Linked DNA regions of Homo sapiens. The gene in region 1 interacts genetically with each later gene. Each region holds a gene or a part of one and is shown in the gene's direction. Other genes may lie near its edges.

The links.
Region 2: changes in EIF2AK3 (region 1) and GBF1 together harm fitness less than expected from each alone (positive genetic interaction), as found in Homo sapiens cells (one study listed by BioGRID).
Region 3: of EIF2AK3 (region 1) and DNAJC3, changing one suppresses a phenotype caused by changing the other (phenotypic suppression), as found in Homo sapiens cells (one study listed by BioGRID).

What each region holds. Positions count from the first base shown.
Region 1 is NC_000002.12:88,624,465-88,631,370, reverse strand, and holds the start of EIF2AK3 (eukaryotic translation initiation factor 2-alpha kinase 3 isoform 1 precursor), read left to right. Parts: upstream 1-3,906; 5' UTR 3,907-4,096; coding exon 4,097-4,404; intron 4,405-6,441; exon of another isoform or gene 6,442-6,625; intron 6,626-6,906. UniProt on the Homo sapiens protein: Metabolic-stress sensing protein kinase that phosphorylates the alpha subunit of eukaryotic translation initiation factor 2 (EIF2S1/eIF-2-alpha) in response to various stress, such as unfolded protein response (UPR).
Region 2 is NC_000010.11:102,360,339-102,367,645, forward strand, and holds part of GBF1 (Golgi-specific brefeldin A-resistance guanine nucleotide exchange factor 1), read left to right. Parts: coding exon 1-57; intron 58-683; coding exon 684-782; intron 783-1,379; coding exon 1,380-1,574; intron 1,575-2,136; coding exon 2,137-2,326; intron 2,327-2,917; coding exon 2,918-3,058; intron 3,059-3,371; coding exon 3,372-3,460; intron 3,461-5,058; coding exon 5,059-5,261; intron 5,262-6,044; coding exon 6,045-6,168; intron 6,169-6,746; coding exon 6,747-6,872; intron 6,873-7,139; coding exon 7,140-7,222; intron 7,223-7,307. UniProt on the Homo sapiens protein: Guanine-nucleotide exchange factor (GEF) for members of the Arf family of small GTPases involved in trafficking in the early secretory pathway; its GEF activity initiates the coating of nascent vesicles via the localized generation of activated ARFs through replacement of GDP with GTP.
Region 3 is NC_000013.11:95,671,973-95,680,252, forward strand, and holds the start of DNAJC3 (dnaJ homolog subfamily C member 3 precursor), read left to right. Parts: upstream 1-5,166; 5' UTR 5,167-5,283; coding exon 5,284-5,365; intron 5,366-8,280. UniProt on the Homo sapiens protein: Involved in the unfolded protein response (UPR) during endoplasmic reticulum (ER) stress.

The sequences.
Region 1 (6,906 bases):
CATCCCAAAACAGTGAGACGACAGGCAAAAGGAACAAAGTCACCCATGAAGCATGGAGAAACAGAAGGAGCATAAGTTTAAATAAAACATCACTGTAGAGCTGTGGTGTCAGTAAAAAAAAAAAACCCACTTCTTGCTTCACCCACTATATGGCAACGTTTTTGTTATTCACAATCAAATATCATTTCAACAGATGCAGTCTCTCTCTGTTAAGGGATTGAACTCACTGTTTCTAAATCTCAGACCTATTTTGCTGATTTTTTGGGCCACACTCAGTTGTAGAATCTTGGTTGTTTTGGGCAACCCTGGCTCAGGGTACCTGAGCACCAGCTTCTTTTCCTGGCCCAGCCTCACGGGCCAGCTCTCATGCCCGGTCCCCACTTTCTTACATTTCCCTGAGGCACCCAGGTTCCAGAGTTCCCACAAAGTCACTGTGAAGCTCCATGCTGTCCTAAAGCAGGTAGACTCTCTTTTCTCTCCTTAATTTATTTTCCCAGTCAGCACACTTCGACTCAGGCTTTTTTTCCAAAATGGAAAATTTGTGTTTTGTTCCCAAGTATAAAGCTTGACTCTCCTTACTGGCATTTTCCACCACTGTGCTCTTCTGCCCGCGCCTTTTTCATCATAGCACTTATCTCAGTTTTAATAATATATGTGTGATTGTTAATGTCTGTCTCCCTAACTAGATAGGTGTTAACCTTCAGAAGGGCGGGAACCACATCTATTTTGTTCATATCTTTATTCTCATTATTTGCAGGTGGTCATGTGGAATCCCTGAATGTTAAATGAATAAATAAAACTTCCACAGTATTTACAGGTGGCAAGTAGACTCCTAATTCATTAGTTCAGATTAATAGCCTTGTTCATGCCATGATCATTTTTTGAAAAAATTACAAAACCATGAAGACCAGGCCCACTAAAATATATACACTAATTTCAAACAGGTAGTTAACAATCATTTTTCATCTTATGTTAATTTTCTGACACCTTCCTCATACCAACTAGTATAATCCCTTTTAGGTGGGCAATTTTATCTCCTATTTTGTTGAGTAGATAATGGTCAATTGGTTTGAGTTCGCTCATCTATTTTCTCTACTTTTCAAAATAACTTACTCTCTAGGAATACCTCCTACGCTCTACTTTCAACATGGAAGGCAGAGCTGCCCCTTTTCCTCCAGATACTCTGGAATCTTGCTCTCGTAATCAACCCCCTCTGTCTACAGCAACTGCAGTCTCTTCCTTTCCAGTTGTCTCTTTCCTTCTGTCCTCAGGTATTCATTCATTCATTCATTCATTCAACAAACATTTATTAAATGCTTGCTAAACACTTTGCACTGTTTTATGTCTTCGAATACATCAATGAGCAAATCTTCACAGAATTTACATGCAAGTGGAAGGAAACACAGCAGACAATAAACAAAACAAATATGTAAATTACAGTATTTACATATTTGTAATGTATGTATCGGCTAAGCAGAAATAAAGCAGGAGAGAAATAAAGGAAGGAAGGTGGTGGAGGTTTTAATTTTAAATAAGGTAGTGAGGAGGGACTTCACTGGGATTAGCAAAGCCTCAAATAAAGTGAGGGAACATATCTTGTGGGTACCTGGGTATTATGTGCTAAATTGTGTCCCTCCAAAATTTACATGTTGAAGTCCCAACCTTTAGTGCTTCAGAATATAACTATACTGTATTTGGAGATAAGATCTTTAAAGCAGTGATTAAGTTAAAATGAGGCTGTTAAAGGTAGCCCCACACTCCAATCTGACTGGTGTTAGAAGAATAGGAAGAGACATCAGAGGGAAGAGGAAGTAAGAGGGCTGTCATCGGCAAGCCAAGGAGAGAGGCCTCAGAATCCCACCTTGATCTTGGACTTCTAGCCTCCAGAACTTCGAGAAAATAAACTAGTTTTGTTCAGGCCACCTGGTCTGTGGTATTTGTTAGGGCAACTCTAGCAAACTCATATACCTGGGAAGTTTCCTAGGCAGGCAAAACAACAAAGGAAAACCCCCCAGGTGGGTCTTGATTGGCCCAGTGGAGTGAGCAAAGACAGTATGAAATGAGATCAGAAAAGCCATAGGAACCAGATGCTGTAGCACCCTGTAGTCTATTTTAAGGACTTGACTTTTATCCTGAGTGAACTGGGGGACCTTTTGAGGGTTACGACCAGCACTATGGAGAAGCAAGAAGACCGGTGAAAGGTGTTCTAGACAGGAAAAACTTGAGTTGCTGGATCAAATACAGCTGATAAAACAAAGATTATCCTTTGAATACAGCACTGGTGGCCTCAGCGAGAGCAGTTTTGGTGGTGTGAATGCCTGACTGTAGTGTACTTGGGAATGGGAGAAGAGGAATTGAAGATAAGGAATTTTGAACACTTGAGTTTTGCCATACAGAGGAGCAAAGACACGTGGTAGGAGCTGGAAGGGGAAGAGAGGTTTCTTGTTTGTTTTGGGCTGGGGAGAGATTAGAGCATGTTTTTAGCAGATGAAGGATAATCTAGGTATACCCATATTGCCAACACCTTAACAAATCTTCACCGGTTTTGGACCAGGTGCGGTGGCTAATGCCCGTAAATTGCAGCACTTTGGGAGGCTGAGGCGGGAGGATGGCTTGAGGCCAGGAATTTGAGACCAACCTGGGCAACACAGAAACCCCATCTTTACAAAACAAAATTAAAAATTGGCCTGGCATGGTGGCACGCATCTGTAGTCCCAGCTACTCCGGAAGCTGAGGAAGGAAGATCGCTTGAACGCAGGAATTCAAGGTTATAGAGAACTATGGTCAAGCCACTGCACTCCAGCCTGGGCAAAAGAGCAAGACCCTCTCTCTAAAAAAAAAATTTTTTTTAATGTTCACTGGTTTTGATGCGGGTAATAGCCTCCCGGCCAGTCTCCTCCTCGTTGATGCTGTCACTGCTGAAGATGCATTTTCTTATCACTTCACTCATCTGCTCAAAAATCTTCAGGAAGTCTTGACTTGCAGCATTAAAAGTTCAAATGCCTTGGCTGAACATTCCAGTCTTCTCCACTCTGCCCTTTTGCAATTTCATCACTGTCTTTGGTGAGGTACAAAGCGTGCCAGGTCAGAGTCAGAAGACATGAATTAAAGTCATGATTCTGTGACCAACCAGCTACGTGATCTTAGGCTAACTACGTCAGTGCACTGGGCCGGGGCTCCTTCCCGTTCCTAAGGAGGCGGGAGGCGTGTCGGGCAGACTGGATTGTCACAGGTCACTGCCATCTCTAACAAGCGGACTTCTGAGCCCCGTTGCGGCCACAAGTAGGACCATCTCCTGCATCCTCCTTACCCTTCTACTTCTAGGGACCACACGGCTTCTGTGGCCACTTCTTGCTGCTTCGCTTTTGCCTTCCTAAGTAGACTAGGCTTTAGAAGAGCTACAATACCAGCTCCTTTAAGGTCGACCTCCTCCCGGTCACAAGGCACTTGCCTCCCACTCTTCACTTGGGACAGTCCTCTTCACAGTCAGAATCCGCCACGTAGTAAGTGCCGCTTCCAACCAATCAAGAGGCAGTTAGCGCAGACCTTTGAGGGACATCCACTTCCACCAATGATCTTCAAGTCTTCTCCAGCGCCTCGCTTTGTGGGGCGAGGCCAACCACCGCGATGGCCAATCTGTTGTAGGAAAGGTATTCCGGGAACTGATGAGCGCACCAATCAGGTAAAAAGACGTCGGGGAAGGGCATTTCTCATTGGTAATTGCGTCCGGAAGAGGGACGGGCCTCGAACGACGAAATTACGATTTGATTGGTAGGTGCGATGTTGACCACCAGGGAAAGTCCACCTTCCCCAACAAGGCCAGCCTGGGAACATGGAGTGGCAGCGGCCGCAGCCAATGAGAGAGCAAACGCGCGGAAAGTTTGCTCAATGGGCGATGTCCGAGATAGGCTGTCACTCAGGTGGCAGCGGCAGAGGCCGGGCTGAGACGTGGCCAGGGGAACACGGCTGGCTGTCCAGGCCGTCGGGGCGGCAGTAGGGTCCCTAGCACGTCCTTGCCTTCTTGGGAGCTCCAAGCGGCGGGAGAGGCAGGCGTCAGTGGCTGCGCCTCCATGCCTGCGCGCGGGGCGGGACGCTGATGGAGCGCGCCATCAGCCCGGGGCTGCTGGTACGGGCGCTGCTGCTGCTGCTGCTGCTGCTGGGGCTCGCGGCAAGGACGGTGGCCGCGGGGCGCGCCCGTGGCCTCCCAGCGCCGACGGCGGAGGCGGCGTTCGGCCTCGGGGCGGCCGCTGCTCCCACCTCAGCGACGCGAGTACCGGCGGCGGGCGCCGTGGCTGCGGCCGAGGTGACTGTGGAGGACGCTGAGGCGCTGCCGGCAGCCGCGGGAGAGCAGGAGCCTCGGGGTCCGGAACCAGACGATGAGACAGAGTTGCGACCGCGCGGCAGGTGAGGGGCTGCCGACCCGGGGGAGGCAACTTGTTTACGCGCGCGAGCCGCGGAGGATGCGGTGTAGGGGGGCGGAGATCCGGGACCCGGGCGGGCGTCTTCCCTCGGCTGCGGAGGGCAGCTGGCGACCTGGGGACGAGCGCGGGGCCACGACGCCCTCCCATCCCCCGGCCAGCGACCTGCCTGGGCTCGGCTCCCGAGGGCCTGGTGCTGGCCGACGGGTCAGAGCAGCATCCTCGCAGGTGCGGGAGAATGGAATTCCAGGGTTGCAAAGAAACGCCACTTCCCCTCTTTCATTGTTTTCGGGCATTGATTCTCTTCCAAGGAACCTTTCCCTCTTTTTCCTTACGCACATCACCTCCTGTCTGTGCTGGCGTGACAGCTGTTTTGAGAAAGGACTTTAGCAAAAGACGTCTGCATTTTCTTTCAAACACAACTCTGTAGTGCCCCCGGACAAGGATTGAGATCAGTGTCTAATTGAGATCTGCGGAACACCTGCATCCGAATCACCTGGGGTTGCTGGTGAAATCTACAGTTTTCTAGGCCCTACCCCAGTTTTACTGAATGAGACATTCCCTGGGTAAGAGCCTGGCATCTGCGTGTTTAACAAGCACGCCGGATAATTCTTGCACGCTAAAGTTTAAGAGCTATAGTCAGATTCTTGAATATTGGTTCTTGAACCTAAGAGCCATGGTTAGGTTCTTGAATAAGGGGTTTACTGTATAAACATTTAATATAGGGTTTTCTTTGAGTTTCTCAGCATTCAAAAAATGTTACTTCAAGGTGATTGTTTTAAAGCACTTTTCAAAGTCTAGACACAATGTAAGGCATGTTAACAGTAAATTTGGGGGACAGCCAATCTTATCACACCCGTGGAGAAAGTGATGTCCCATTTTATAAATGGAGTGCTAAAGGGAGCATTAAGTAAATTAAACTAGGGAAGGCTGGGCTCTGGATTGGAACATATTTTAGACTTATAGTCATTACTAGATCGTAACAAGTTAGATTTAATTTTAAATTAATATTAGAACTTTGATCTATATATCTGGAGACTACTATAAATAGGATAAGTACTAAAATTCTCTAGGCACCATTTGAATATATAAACATTTGTAAATATATATATATAAAACAAAGTTTTCTTAGGTTTGCTAATGAGTCAGTTTTCCTGGAAGAGTGTTTTTGTTTATCATAAATTTCTGAAGCTCCTGCTCAAAATGAATTACATGAAGTAGAGTTGAGACGTTTTCTTTTTCTTAGAATTCAAATCCACTTCAACAGGTACTTACTGGTTAACAAGAGCCCAAGGATGCCCTGGGTGGCAGAGGTTAGGCAGGTAGTTCCTGCCTTCCAGGAGAGTGTGCAGTCTAACAGTACGGATGAAACGAGAAGACCTATAACAACATTACAGACTAGAAACAGTGCCAGTGTCAGGGATGTCCCAAGGTTTTTGTGGTGTTCTACTAGGTGAGGTATGGGAGTGAGGGTAGGTAAGAAGATAAGAGAAGGTTGTGGCAGAATGAGTTGGTTCCTGAAAAATGGGTAAAATTGTAATGGAAAGTCACTGGACTTGAGGAAACAGCAAGAGGCACAGAGGCCGGAGATTATGTTTGGAAAACATTTTGTCTCTGTGTATGTCTGTGTGTGTGTGTGTGTGTGTGTGTGTGTGTGTGTGTGTGTGTACGTAAGCGATATAGACATGCACATATGTATGCTAGGCAGGGAGAAGTAGATGAGGATAGAAAAAATAGGTTAGAGCCGACTGTATATGCATATAGTCTGATGCTAATAGCATCATTGTCACTTGGGAGTATGTTAAAACTCCGGAGTGGGGCACCACCCCACACTCCCTGAATGAGAGTATCTGCATTTTAACAAGATCACCGTGTGATTCACATGCACGTTAAAGTTTGAGAAATGTTGGGTAGAGTATCCTGAGTGCCAGGCTTGATCAAAATTACACCTAAGGAATGTTTCTCTAGCAATAGTGTGTACTGAAAACTTGAGTTAAGAATACCAAAAGGAGAGTGTTATAGCAGTTCAGATGAGAGGTTTAGTGTAAAGTGGTATAGGACAGAGGGGACAGAGTTGAGATATTTGATGCAAAATCTAGGTTCCTGGCAAGTGAATGCATTCTTCCTTTCTTGGTACCCTTGTCCAGAGATTGAGACTGCGTGGCCAGAAGTTGACAAAAGAGGTTTAAGGGAGCAGGGAAGAAAAGGTAAGGGGTTTGGTGTTGGACATGTGACTCGGAGGTGCAGGCAGGACATCCAGAGGGAGGTAGGCGGGTGGAAATGAGTGACTAGAGCCAGTGAGAAGGCAGCATAAATATGAATAGGTGAAGCTGTGGGAAAGGGAAAGCTCATGAGAAAACCTCAGGAAATGCCTTTTATTTTAGGGAGGAAGATGAGCCAGCAAAGGAGACAGAAATACAGCTGGCTAGGTTGGAGGTACAGGAGGAGGACTGGGAAGAAAGATTTGGCGATGAGCACACTTAAAGAG
Region 2 (7,307 bases), on another chromosome or scaffold:
CAGTGCCAGACCCTCTTGGGCCTCATCAAGGATGAGATGTGCCGTCACTTATTCCAGGTAAGACAAGATTGCTAGAGGGTCTCAGAGCCTCTTTCAAGGGCCAGGGGAACACAGGGAGGTCTGGCTGATTACGCAAAGAGTATAGGACCTAGGAAAGCATCTCCCTCCCAGTTGGCTAGTAGTTTTAGTAAGAGGGTTCCAGTAGTTCCCCAGGGACTCTGGCAGCCAGAGAGAAATATAGGAATGGCTAGATGTAGAGTTCCCTGGAAGCAATGGACCTCAGTGACACCTTCACTCAGTTTGCCTCTTCTGCCTCTCTTGGTTGAGCCATAGTCAGCTTCAGAAACCTCACAGCCGGGCTGGGTGCAGTGGCTCACGCCTGTAATCCCAGCACTTTGGGAGGCCAAGGCGGGCGGATCACGAGGTCAGGAGATTGAGACCAGCCTGACCAATGTGGTGAAACCCAGTCTCTACTAAAAATATCAAATTAGCTGGGCATGGTGACGTGCGCCTGTAATCCCAGCTTCTTGGGAGGCTGAGGAAGGAGAATATCTTAAACCCAGGAGGCAGAGGTTGCAGTGAGCTGAGATTGCGCCACTGCACTCCAGCGTGGGCAACAGAGTGAAACTCCGCCTCAAAAAAAAAAAAAAAAAACTCATGGCCTACCCTGCTCTCATCTCCAGCTACTCAGCATAGAGCGACTAAACCTTTATGCTGCTTCCCTGCGAGTATGCTTCCTACTGTTTGAGAGCATGCGAGAGCACCTCAAGTTCCAAATGGAGGTGAGTTTCTTGATGTGGAAAGAAAAGGGGGAAAAAAAATAGGGAGATATATGGCATCTTCAGTGGGGCCAGCTCTATCATGCTACAGGGGTAGGATTTAGGGACTTCCTATAGGAGAGTCCTTTTAGCCTCCAGAGTTCGGTTCAATCAACTGGCCTCTTTTGTGGAAAAGTTAAAAGGAGACCAAAGGAAACTGGCTGACCCCAAATATGAGAACTGCCAGGTAACCTTACCATGAATAGGGACAGCTCTTCTGCCCAGCAGTTACTCTGCAACACAGGTAGGTAAGTCAAGCCAGCATTGTCACTAAATTGCTAAAAGGAACTCTAAATAGGACCAGGTCATGTTCACATAGCACAAAAGGGCAAGAGGCAACTTGTCTGGGACCAGGTATGTGGTAGAGAGCCAGGCCTTATCCCCCAACATGGAGGCCAAAGAAGAGATATATTTAGGGGATGGAATACCTTTGGGTGTCTCTTAATACATGCCTCTAGGCTGGGCTTCTGCATCCTGTTTAATGTTTTTCCTGTCTAATTTTTTCTCTTCCTATCTTGAATCCTTTCCCCACCCAAATGGCAATTACTGGGTTATTGCCAGATGTACATCAAAAAGCTTATGGAGATCATCACTGTGGAGAACCCCAAGATGCCTTATGAGATGAAGGAGATGGCACTGGAGGCCATTGTGCAGCTCTGGCGCATCCCCAGCTTTGTCACAGAGCTCTACATCAACTATGATTGTGACTACTACTGTTCCAACCTCTTTGAGGAACTCACAAAGCTGCTGTCCAAGGTGCTGAGCACTATAACTGGCTTCTAGGAAAAAACGCATTATAAAGGAAATCTCCCTGGTGGTAGTGAGGATGTTACATACAGAGAGGGGAACACTTGAGAGCTGGGAAATAGAAGAAAGGCATTTTCTTTTCTTTTCTTTTTTTTTTTTTTTTTTTTTTTTGAGATGGAGTCTCACTCTGTTGCCCAGGCTGGAGTGCAGTGGCGCGATCTCGGCTCACTGCAAGCTCCACCTCCCGGGTTCACACCATTCTCCTGCCTCAGCCTCCCGAGTAGCTGGGACTACAGGTGCCCACCACCACGCCCGGCTAATTTTTTGTATTTTTAGCAGAGACGGGGTTTCACCATGTTAGCCAGGATGGTCTCGATCTCCTGACCTTGTGATCCACCCGCCTCGGCCTCCCAAAGTGCTGGGATTACAGGCATGAGCCACCACGCCCGGCCAGAAAGACGTTTTCTAAGGGCAATGTACAAGTTAGAAGAAGTTTTGGAAATTTTAGAAAATGATCAAAGTGTAAAGTGTTCTCCTAACTACAAGTCCAATTGATCTGTTTACTTTCCAGAATGCCTTCCCTGTGTCTGGTCAACTCTATACAACACACCTACTATCTCTTGATGCCCTATTGACAGTGATTGACAGCACCGAGGCCCACTGCCAGGCTAAAGTCCTCAACAGCCTCACCCAGCAAGAGAAGAAGGAGACAGCCAGACCAAGCTGTGAGATAGTAGATGGCACCCGAGAAGCTAGCAATAGTGAGAGGCATTTCTTTCTTTGATGAACCCAGTGTTCTATGCTTATCCCTTCTCTACTCTCTGAGTCGTTTTTCCTGTCCCCATATCACTTCCCCTGGGATGCTCCCAATTCTGTTTCTGGGCTTTGGCAGTTTAAATCACAGGCCAGTCAGGCAGATTAGTAGAACTCATAGCCTTCTCCCTTTTTCCTCCTCCCCACTTTGGTTTTTTACAGAATTATTATTTCTTTATGGCAAGAGAAGAGAACAGAGATTAAAGAATATAGGATTTCTGTCTCTGAAAGCTCCAGGTCCCACCATCCCTCATCCCCAATATCTGCCTCCACTCTAATTAGTCCTCTCTAGCTCCCCCTTGAAATTTGAGGTTGCAGAAGATCAGGGAAAGTGACTGGGTAATCTCTTCATTAAATTAGAGAATCTAATGCTTGGCTGGGACAGGGACTACTTATTTTGGCTTGGGTTTGTCCTGCTCAGGGCTGGCGCCCTGTGCAGGAACCATGCAGGTCTTCTGGGCTTGGGATTTGATCTATCCTGCAGCTCTGCTTGGCTTCATACCCTATAAGTCTTCACGTATCTTCTTCTCTCTTACCAGCTGAGAGAACTGCCAGCGATGGGAAAGCTGTAGGCATGGCCTCAGACATCCCAGGCCTGCATCTGCCAGGTGGAGGGCGGCTGCCACCAGAACATGGGAAATCAGGATGCAGTGATCTGGAGGAAGCTGTTGACTCTGGGGGTGGGTACTGGGTGTCCATGACCCTAAGCTCCTCACCTGGAGGGCCTGGTGAAGAGCAGAGGGAGGGAGCAGACACCTAGGATAGTAACTAAGCAAGCCTTGGTAGCCCGCCTCGCCTTCAGACTCAGAGAGAGGGAAGCAAACATATGGACCCTCAGTTGATAGGACTTCCAGGGAAGTGGAAGACTGGTGAGGACAAGATTTCTGAGGCTCCTTCTTGAAACTGGGGAGTATATTGGTGACCTTCCAAAAGTCCTTATCTGGGTAAAAAAAGGTGTTACAGATATTTCCCCCCTCTTCTTCCTACTCCTAGCTGACAAAAAGTTTGCCCGGAAGCCACCCCGATTTTCCTGTCTCCTGCCAGATCCACGGGAACTAATTGAAATTAAAAACAAAAAGAAGGTACATACATGTATTCCCCAGCCTCTGTCCACCTCTGTCTGGGTGTCCAGTGTTGTAGGGTTTCCATCTCAGAAGATGAAGGAGAGTCTAGCACCTCATTGTACAGCTTCCTGAGGCCAGTCTTTGGGCTTGTTGGGACTTCAGCAACTCCCATTTGAAGCCCTTCCCTTACTCCTAAGCTATGTAGTTGAGCATACCCTATGTATGCCCCTGCGCAAATGCTGTACCAGTTGAGAGCCAAGTGTCACTAGTGGCAGTGACAGGAGCCTTGGGAGTTGGTGTCTTGTGGGTCATTGAAGGTTACTGTCATCTCCAGCTCTTGCAAGATGATTGGCAATAAAGGGAAATTGATATTCATTCTGGTGCTTTAGTAAGGTTCAAATAGTAAGGTTCAAATAACTGTTTGTACTTTGGATTTCTTTTTTTTTTTTTTTTTTTTTTTTTCAGACGGAGTCTCTCTCTGTTGCCTAGGCTGGAGTGCAGTGGCATGATCTCAGCTCACTGCAACCTCCACCTACCGGGTTCAAGCAATTCTTCTGCCTCAGGCTCCCAAGTAGCTGGGACTACAGGCGTGTGCCACCATGCCTGGCTAATTTTTTGTATTTTTAGTAGAGACGGGGTTTCACCGTGTTAGCCAGGGTGGTCTTGATCTCCTGACCTCGTGATCTGCCCACCTTGGCCTCCCAAAGTGCTGGGATTACAGTCGTGAGCCACCATGTCTGGCCTGTACTTTGGGTTTCTTAACACAAAGAAAACCTAACCCTTTCTGGCCGGGCGCAGTGGCTCACGCCTGTAATCCCAGCACTTTGGGAGATCGAGGTGGGCAGATCACCTGAGGTCAGGAGTTTGAGACCAGCCTGGCTAACACGATGAAACCCCGTCTCTACTAAAAATACAAAAATTAGCTGGGCATGGTGGTGCATGCCTGTAATCCCAGCTACTCGGGAGACTGAGGCAGGAGAATCAGTTGAACCTGGGAGGCAGAGGTTGCAGTGAGCTGAGATCACGCCACTGCACTCCAGCCTGGGCAACAGAGTGAAACTCCATCTCGGAAAAAGAAAAAAAAAACCTAACCCTTTCTTTCTCTTATTGCCAGCTTAAATGACTTTGGTTCATGTGTGCCCTTGAGTACCTGGCCGTGACTGGACATACAGAAATATGAGTTGCCTCCACAGTTAGTCCACTTTGTCTTTCAAACCCAGGGCATTAAGCTAGGCAACCAAAGAAGCTAAGCTAGGCTAAAAACAAGAGGCTGGCTATCAACAAATGTCAGGGATGGATATAAAACTGGAGAGAAGAATTACCTAGTTTCTTTCTTCTACTTTTCCCCCAATCCTAAGTTAGAGAAGAGGAACTGTTTTATGTATCTTGAGCACTCAGGAAAGGAGTAAAAAAGAGCTCGTAAGCCAATTCAATTAGACATGAAGATGGGGGAAGCTAAGGCCATTATGATCTAGCCTTAGTTCTGTAATCACTAAGAACCACATCCTAGGAGCTTTTTAGCTGACCAACTGTGGGTGGGCTATGGTGGACTCCAGGCTGGCCTTGTCTAATTTAGAGGCAAAGTAGCTTCTATACCTCTAGTTTTTCTCATGCAGCTGCTAATCACTGGCACAGAGCAGTTCAATCAGAAACCAAAGAAGGGGATTCAGTTTCTGCAAGAGAAAGGCCTCCTCACCATCCCAATGGACAACACAGAGGTTGCTCAGTGGCTCCGAGAGAACCCTCGGCTGGACAAGAAGATGATTGGAGAGTTTGTGAGTGACCGCAAAAACATTGACCTGTTGGAGAGCTTTGTGAGGTGAGGAAGCTGTAAGAAATGTGGGATATAGCCAGGTATGGTGGCTCATGCCTGTAATCCTGACACTTTGGGAGGCTGAGGCAGGCAGATCACTCGAGCTCAGGAGTTCAAGACCAGCCTGGGCAACATGGTGAAACCCTGTCTCTACAAAAAATACAAAAATTAGCTGGGCATGGTGGCATGTGCCTGTAGTCCCAGCTGTTCAGGAGGCTGAGGCAGGAAGATCACTTGAGTCTGGGAGTTCGAGGCTGCAGTGAGCTGTGATCATGCCACTGTGATAGAGTGAGATAGAGTGAGATAGAGTGAGATCATGCCACTGTGATAGAGCTGTGATAGAGTGAGACCTTGGCTCAAAAAAAAAAAAGGTGGGACATGGTTAGTGATCAGTTTAAAGGGACAGAACATCCCTACCTCAAAGCGGTCTCTATAAATTTCTTCTGGAGACCCTAGCCAATGTTCTTCCTCTACCCATCATTTATATCTATTGGACCTGAAAGGGACTCCAACGAGATAGTTTGGGGAGCCCCCTCCATTCTGCATGGAGTCCATTCCAAAGGGGTAGAGCAGGGTTCCAGGGGGTGAGGGTTCTAGGCAAGAGTCCGTGGATGTGAAAAGTATTAAGGCTAGGGGTTGTGTTAGGGATGAACAGGAGATACTGCCCCTTTACTAGAGACCTCAGCCTCCTCTCTTCCAGTAAGAGTAGGTTAGGAGGACAGTGACTAAAAGAGCCTGACATGTGCAGCTTACACATTTTCAGCCTCTTCTTCCTTTCTTTCCCTATAGCACCTTCAGTTTTCAGGGTCTGCGACTGGACGAAGCCCTCCGCCTCTACCTGGAAGCCTTCCGTTTGCCTGGGGAAGCACCAGTCATCCAGAGGTTGCTGGAGGCATTCACAGAGCGTTGGATGGTGAGTTTGAGTGTCAGGGGCTGAGCCCAGGATCCAAGGTCAGTTTGACTGAGGGCTGAAGAATCCAGCTGCTGTCTCTTTTTTTTTTTTTTTTTTTTGAGACAGAGTCTCGCTCTGTCACCCAGGCTGGAGTGCAGTAGCGCAGTCTCAGCACACTGCAACCTCCACCCCCCGGGTTCAAGCAATTCTCCTGCCTTAGCCTCCTGAGTAGCTGGGATTTCAGGCACCTGCCACCAAGCCTGGCTAATTTTTGTATTTTTAGTAGAGATGGGTTTTGCCATGTTGGTCAGGCTGGTCTCGAACTCCTGATCTCGGGTGATCCGCCCACCTCGGCCTCCCTGAGTGCTGGGATTACAAGCGTGAACCACCGCACCCAGCCTGCTGTCTCTTAAAAAGTCAGAGAGCAAAATTAGTGACCTTTCCACAAAGAGATCAGCTTCTGTTAAGGAGTTGGCAAGAGACTGGCCACTTTCTGGATGGTACCTCTCCTCTGTACTAGCACTGACCAGTGGGTTGGTAGTGAGGGTTTAATTGGCCAGAGAAGGGCATTGACACAGGCGGGATCTTTGCTTTTTCAGAATTGTAATGGCTCCCCATTTGCCAATAGCGATGCCTGCTTTTCCCTGGCCTATGCTGTCATCATGCTTAATACTGACCAGCACAACCACAATGTTCGTAAACAGAATGCACCCATGACCCTGGAGGTAAGCTTGGGTCCCAGTCAAGGCAAAGAAGACCCAGCACAGCTTGGGAGGTAGCAGGAAGGACATAGGATTTCCAGTGGGCATGATGGATGGGGTTCTGTCCAAGGGAATCAGGAAGGGCTGGCCAACCTAGAAAAGGGACTGGGGTGGGGAAGTGGGTTTTTTCGCTTACCTTTTCCTAAGTCCTATTTACTGAAAACCCAGGAGTTCCTTAGGTGGGGCTTCAGTGTTGACACAAGGGGAAAAAACTTACTGGCCTGTCTCTAGGAGTTTCGCAAAAATCTGAAAGGTGTGAATGGAGGCAAGGACTTTGAGCAAGACATCCTGGAGGACATGTACCATGCCATCAAGTGAGTATACATAGAGAATAGTGCAGTATCTCTGTTAAGAAGAAGCACATTGCTTCCTTTCCCAGTTTTTAGAGTCATGTCAGAC
Region 3 (8,280 bases), on another chromosome or scaffold:
GCTCCCTCCATGGGTGTTGGCAGCACTAAGTTTCAAGGCAAAGGCCCATAATTACTGTCCTTTCTCCTTCCACAAATGTACAAATTCTCTCTCAGTGCCACACAGTCACTGCCAGGGGATAGGGGAGGGGTGATGTTGGCAATTCAAGACTGCCTTTCCTACTCTCTTCAACGCCTCTGTCAGCAATATGCAGTTAAAACCAGGTACTGTGATTGTTCGCCTGATTTTTGGTTCTTATGAAGGTGCTTTTTTTGTGTAAATAGTTGTCAAAGTTGGTGTTCCTGTGGGGATGATGATCGGTGGAGGCTTCTATTTGGCTATCTTGCTCTGTCTTCCTCATGTTATTTTCAAAATCCATTTTGATTATGTCGTTTAATTATTGTGTTTATAACATTTATATTTAATGCAATTGTGTTTATATGTTTGGATTTAGATGTGAGAATCTGGAAAATAATAAGTTCTTATATTTGTGTTATTACAAAAATTTTATAAGATCAAACCTATTTAAAGACATGTCATTATGTCACTTAATTTAGAAATTAGAAAGCTTAAATTTTGAAGAGTTTACCCATTGTATATAAAATATAATATTGTACTTAGTTAATTTCTTATAAAATCAGAAGATATATAGCTGCCTTTAAATTAGTATTAACACATTCCAGTGATCAAAGATTCATCTATTTATCGGAAACAGTACATGAATCTTTTAAAATACAATTTTTACACTTTGTAGTCCAGAATTGTAATGTTAAAGACTCTTTAAATCACACTTCAAAACTTTTAGCTCATAATTATAATAACACAACCTATTATTTAAATGCACTCACTCACATTTTAAAAATAAAAAATACAGTGAACAGCATTTTTCTTTTAGATATTTTACTAGATTGTTTGGACTAGAATATAACTAGAATGTGTATGTAGCAATAGACATTTTAAAAACTCAAATAACCTACAATTTTCAAACTGAGAGAAAAAGAAGAACATCAAAAAGAGGAGAAAAGAGCTGGCTTAGGCAACTGTTATCTCTGTAAAGGGCTAATTCTCTTTCTTCTGCAAGGAAAGGAGATAAAATTCGATGCAGAAAAACTCATCTGTACACAAATACACAAAAGAGAGTCACTGCAGTTGATTTAAAAATACTCAGGCCCTTCACAATATTTTAAATAAACTTCTATTGCTGAAACAACTTTCAAGTAAGGGCATAAGGATAATACAGGGAGGTCCCAAATACCCCTTATTTTTCTGTATTGTTAGCATCTTGCATAACCATGGTACATTTGTCAAAACTAAGAAAGTAATAATGGTACACTACTATTAAACTTGAGACTATTCATATTTCAGTAGTTTTTCCACTAATGTCTATTTTCTCTAGGATCCAGTTCAACACAGCACACTGCATTCAGTCATCAATTAAGTTTCCTTAGTTTCCTCTGGTCTGTTACAGTATTTCAATCTTTCCTTGTTCCCCACGACGTTGATAGTTTTGAGGAATACTGATCAGGTGTTTTATAGAATGTCCTTCAATTTTAGTTTGATTTTTTTTTTTTCATGTTTAGACTAGATTGGGTTATAGGTTTTGAGAATACCACAGAGGTGAATTGCCCTTCTCATCACAGTATATTGGGAGTATATGCTATCAACATGACTTGATGATATTAACTTTGACCACCTGGCCAAGACAGTGTTTCCAGGTTTCTGTACTATGAAGTTACTCTCCTCCTCCCTTTCCATACTCTGTTCTTTGGAAGTTAGTCACTAAGTCCAGCCCACACTCAAGGAAGGAGGGAAAATAAGCTCCACCTGATGAAGGGGGACGTATTGTGTTAAGCTGAATAACGGTCCCCCAAATATGTTTACATTCTAATCTCCTGTCATTGTTCTATAGCAAAAGGCAGTTTTTGCAGATGTGATTAAATTGAGGAACTTGAGTAGGAAGAATATCCTGGATTATCTCAGCAGGCCCAATATAATTAATTACAAGGATCCTTGTAAGACGGAGGCAAGGTCAAAAATGACAGAAGGTGATGTGAATACAAAAGCGGAGATTATAGTCATGCGGCCAGAAGCCAAAAAACAACATAAAAGAGGGTGGAAAGCAGAGAAGACAAGATGTGATATAAAAGCCAAATTTTATATGAAGGTACCAAAATTTGATCAGAATCCCAAAATCCTTGAAAATAAACTGTAAATTTGACATATAAGGGTCATTTTTTGTTCCTCAGATTGGCAAAAACTGAAAATCAATTATATCTAGTGATGGTGACTAGGCAGGAATATAAACAGCTGATAGGAATAGAAATTATTCCTTTAGGGAAAGATAATCTGACAACGCATCTTAAAAGTTTAAACAAATTCTTTGATTAAGCAAGTTCAAAAACCTAGTTTTTTTTTTTTTTTTTTTTATAAAGTGTCACTCTGTTGCTCAGTCTGGAGTGCAGTGACATGATCTTAGCTCACTGCAACCTCAAACTCCTGGGTTGAAGCAATCCTCTGCCTCAGTCTCCCTGAGTAGCTAGGGCAACAGGCACGAGCCACCGCACCTGGCTAGTTTTAAATTTTTTTGCAGAGACAGGATCCTGCTATGTTGCTCAGGCTGGTCGCAAACTCCCGGCCTCAAATAATCCTCCCATCTTGGCTTCCCAAAGCGCTAGCATTACAGGTGTGAGCCACTGCGCCCAGCCTAGAAATGTTTCCTAGAAATAAAAGCACAAGTTTGTAAACATAAATGTGGAAGGATGTATATGGTGGCATTAACTTAATGCTGACTTTTTTGTTCTTAATTTGGCACAAAAAGGTGTTTATAAGTGCTCTACTTGTTTCTGAACATTTATTTCTCCTCATAGTTAATTCCTAAACAAATCTTATTCCCTTTACCTACAAAATATGTTCTAGATCTGTTCACTCCTCTCTACCAACATTGTTTTTCCTAGTCAATAAACATAGATCAACCTAATAAAAATTGCATAATACTCTTAATTTTGGATATATCATAAATATGCTACCATTGTTTTTTAAGTCTTTTGCTACTATAATTAACAGTATGAATTACAGTGGAGATTTAATGTTTAACTTCAAAAAGACTCCATAGAGTCTGACGAATGCAAACATATTTACAGTAACTTTTCTTACACTCACTAGATTACTTTGATTTTCGGTTTTATTGGCAAGAGTGATTCGTGAAAACCATGACTAGATGAACATTGGAGGAAACATTCCCAAGCATTAATCACTTAATTTTAGTTTTGTACATTTTTTTCTGTCTAATGTTACCTTTGTTGTAAAATTATCTTTTTTTAAGGAATGCTTTGTAAAGCTTAGTTCTAATATTACAGAATTCATAGTTATGTAATTAATCTCAAAATCACTCACCATTGAAGACCCTTGCTATTTTTATTTCCTATAACACGAAGTCTATTATCTCCTTAATAATTTTTAATTTCCATCCTTAGAACTTCTTCAGCTCTGCTACTTTTTCCTTAAGGCCAGGGTCATAGGCAGCACACTGGTGATAACTCACTGTCTAGAAATATTGCATTTTGTTTACAAAGTTATTTTCTATGTTCAGCATTTTGCTGGCTGCCTTGGGTACAGTACCTCAATTGAATGTCTACACCTGCATATTTGTGGACATTGAAATCATCTACCATTTTTCAGAGACACTACCTTGTGATATAAAAAAACAGAAGCCAAAAAAAAAAAAATCCCAAGGAATTTCTGAAGGAGCCTCTCTTCACTACTCTGCTCTTGTTAGAATAATGAGTAACACTGGTATAACATTCTACAATTTACAAGAATATTTATCTGCTTCATGAAACCTCAAAACAAACCTTTGAGACTATCAGGATCCTAACCACTTTACAGATGAAGATAACTTACATAATAGTTATGGGGTTTCCTGGATCTGACTCCTTTATTCTTCACATTACATTATGTTGCCTTCCCCACAACTAATCAAGGACTCCGTTTTTTCTTTTTTCTTTCTCGAAACCATTTCCTCCATATTAGTTCCCTTTGGAATAGAAGCCTTTTTAAAAGTCCACCTTAGTATATCTTCAGGGAATCACAAATTCACTATGCTATTTATAATTCATGAGTTTCTCTAATGGTATCAAGGCAGCAAATACAGGTGAAGTAATAATTATCCACCTGATAGTACTTAACACACATACCCCGTGTAAAAATACTGCTGGTGTACAGTGTGTGTGTTGGTGACGCCGGAGGAAGTGGCCGTGAACAGGCTTAATGCCGCATTGAGTAACTTCAACCTCATCTTGCTCAGGTTCATATCTCTCCTGAATTTCCCCTGGTAAGCGCAAGATTCAGGATCCGTTCTCACAGTTTTTTGTTTACCAGTTGATGTTGGCTGCATTCAGGAACGCCTTGCTCTCTTAAGCCACAGTGCCTTCCTGGTCTCTTCTTCACAGGGTCTTCCACAATCGCTCTTTTTCCTGGGCACGGTGGTTTGCTGAAAGTCGGGGTGGGGGGCGGGGCGTTCCCAAGTTTCCAGGCCAATTACCTACCTGCCTTAGAGCAATTACGCACTTCTCTCTGGTAGTCCCTGAAATGTTCTAATCATCAGATCGCCCCAGCTTCTCCTGACCGTTTCTTGCTTACGGCTCAGTTCAGACAGTATTTGTTCCGGGACGCTCAGCGGGAGGCGGTTTTTACCGGCTCACTCGAGACCCCAATTCCAGGCGCCCTGCAGCTTCCCTCAGACTCCCCGGGACCGTGTTTGGCCTTCCCATTCGTACGCTGCGGCTGCGCTTTCCTCTCGTAACACCACGCTGGCGAACCTGGAAAGGATCAAATAGTCCCACTCGCCAACCTAGCGCGGCGGGACCGGCCCAAAAGGGCCTTTGCAGCCTGCGCATGCGGACTCGGCGGCCGCCACCGACTCCCCGTCTGCTTCCCTCCGGGCGGCAGCCGCGGTTTGGAGCTTGCTGACAGCTCTGCGACCGGCGGGCGCAGCCTCGTCTCGTGCTTCCACGTTATCCTATCAGGGACGGGGCGGGGCGGCGGCCTCCGCAGCCTATCAGCGCGAACCACGACCCCGGCGAGCCCGGGAGGAAAGCCGCCAGAAAGAAGGCGATTGGATGGCGGCGGCGCTCTGGGGCGTAGCGTCGCCCGGGCCCCGCCCACCGCTGCCTTCCTCTGCTGGGCTCCAGAGCCACTGAGGCCTGAGCGAGAGCCGACGGCGGGCGGGCGCAGCTGCTGCCGGAGCGCCGGCGCGTGCTGGTGGGCCACACACCTTTCCTCCTCTTCACTCGCGAGCCCTCGGACATGGTGGCCCCCGGCTCCGTGACCAGCCGGCTGGGCTCGGTATTCCCCTTCCTGCTAGTCCTGGTGGATCTGCAGTACGAAGGTGAGTCCTGCCCTGCCCCGGCCAGGAAGTGGGCTCCCGGACCAGGCCCCCCGCGCTTTCCCGTCTGCGCCCGGGCGCCTGTCCCGGAGCGGCTCGGGAGGTGGGGCGAGCGCTGGGGGAGCCCGCGGCCTGGCTTGGGCCTGAGCCCGCGCCCGGTTCCGGGTTTGTCTGGGGAAGAATCGAGGGGACTGGCGGGCCGCGGGGCCGGGACAGCGGGTTTGGACTAAGGAACCGGGCCGCAGGAGTCGGAGGAGGCGGGGTGCGGGGGCACCGGGCTACGACTTCAGGAAGTCCTGGGACGCGGAGACTTGGGCAGCCTTTGGGTCCTGGCCTCGCTTGGGACCCTCGCTGGGCGCCTGGGGACACTGTCAGTCATTGGTGCTGGCTGGGAGGAGGCACTAAGGTGGCCAAAAGACTTCCTTCGCTCTGGAGTTCTTGGGTGGGGAAGGAGTGTCATGTCCGGCTGGGAGTTGGAGGGGACAGTGTTGACTATTTAAAAAGTGTGTAACCATCCCCATTAAGATGCACTGTCGTGTAGAGAAATTGTTAGTTTGGTGCAATGAGGAGCCGCTGTTGGAATTCCATCTCCCGGACGGCCAGGCACTGAGTTTGTGGTTTTACAACTCCCAACATGGTGTCATTCAACGTATGGCTGGCATTACTTTTCCAAGTTCGCTGTAAAAAGGTTCCCTTAAAAAGATACGAACGATTAAATTTCACTTCAGTCCTGCAGACTGGAATGTTGGCTACTCCAGAATAGCGAAAATAGAGGGCTGTCCTATCTTAGATGGCAGCGGGGAGGAGTAAGAATTAAAGTTGATAGTGCCGATTTAACGAATGCTTCTGGCGCGGTTACTGTGCGAAATATTCGAGTGTAATGACACATCACATGCACTGATCTATTTTCATCCCCATAAAAAGGGCTAGTTGTCAAGGAGGTCAAATTAAACCTTTGAGTATTCCATTCAAAGGGAGCGAGGAACTAAAAATTGGGAATTGTTTATAGTGAATTCTTCTGAAAGTTCTCAACTTTTTTTTTTAAAGTAGTACTCCCCAGTTTTTAGGTGTCACCCATAGCAATGGGCTTTTGCTTTTGCTTCCCCTGGTAACCATATTTTTTGAACCCCAAATCAGAACACGTAGTGTGGCAACATTGGGACAAAGAATTTGACAGTGAGGCTGCCCCCAGAAAAATCTAGGGGATTGGAATTTGAAGGTCTGTACCACTTTAATATGGGTCATATATTCTAGTTCTTTTGCATTTTCAAAAGCTTCATTCCTCCTGCCCCCGCACCCCACCATCCCTCATCTGTAGTATTTATCTCCAGTTATCATTAATAATTTATTTTGGACACTTAAGAGAAAGTTGCCTATGTTCTGTTTAATGGTGATTTTTTTTTTTAAGTTACAGAGATGCACAATTTTGAATGATTGCTTTTCCCACTACTTTTTAGAATTGCTGTTCTGTATATGAGTCTGTAAGGACTCTTAACTCTTCATTTCCCTCCTGTGGTATTTTCCATAAGAAAACCACATTTGAGAGCTTTTCTGTGTAGGAGGCACTGGTGACATTTCTCAGAGGAGTGCCAGAGTGTCTTCTTTAGGACCATTGTCTGTGTAAAATAGCAGGGACTTAGTACAGGTAACAGAAAAAGGAAAGAAAGGAGCCTTTCTGTAAGCCATATCTTATTCACGAAAGCGTGTGGTATTCATTCCTACTTTACAGACCAGGGAACTGAGGCTCCAAAGGTTTTACTAAAGTTCATTTTGTGTGCACGCTGGAGACAGAAGTTAAGTAGTTGACAACATCATGTGAGTCCAAGCACTTTTAAGTGATGGCAGCTGAGAAAAAAAATCAGCACTTTTTTTTTTTTTTTTTTTTTGTAATTAACAAGAAGGTTATTTCCTGGGAGGTTTAATACAGTGGTTCTCAAACTTGAGTGTGCATCAGAATCGCACATGGAGGGCTTTTTAAAACAGAGTGCTGTACCCCACTTACAGAGTTTGATTCATTAGGTCTTGATGGGACCTGAAATTTTGCGTTTCTAGAAAGACCCTGGATGACCACACTTGAGAACCACTGGTGTAATAAATTATATAGAGGAGTTAAATTAGGTGTCTGCTATGTATTTGACACTGGATTTGGTGATAGGGATATAAAGGTAAGAACTCTGACTTGAATTAGCAAACCGTTAGCCCCTGTTTTCCCAAATAAATTGTGTCTGGATTCACTAATCTCATAGTTCTCTGAAAGGCAAATGGTGCTACTGCTAGGCCTGAGGCTTAATAAAATTGTGTTGTATTAAGGATTTTTGTTAAATAGGTAGGTTTTAGCTGCTCTTGTCACACAAAAAGTAATTATGTGAGATGATAGATATATTAATCTGCTTCACTCTTATTAATCTGCTTCACTATTGTAACCATTTTATGTGTGTATATCTCATAATACTATGTTGTAAACATCAAATATATACAATACAATTCACTTTTAAAAAAAGAAATGAAGGAGAATGGTTATGAGAGAAGTGAATGTGGAACTAAGAGTGGCACAGGATGGGGAAGAGATAACCTAGTGTTTTTCTGATTTTGAAATATTTGCCTTTGTTTTCTTCTAGATTTTTCTGTTAATTGTCATCCAGAGACAGAAAGTATATATCATGAATTGAAAGTTTGAGTCTTTTGGCACCCTCCCTTCTCAAAGGCGTTTGAAAGAGTGAAGTCTAAAGCACTAGATGAGATCGAATTTTTGGAATAGAAAGAAAACTTTAGTAGTATCTGCTTTAGTATTCTCATGTTACAGATAAGGAAGTTATTTCATTTCTTTGCTAATGGTTTGTCCTCTTGGTGACTTGAGTAGCAACACAGCCTGGGAACGAAACCTTTTTTCTCTTATCATAGTTTTATCTCTTTTTCTT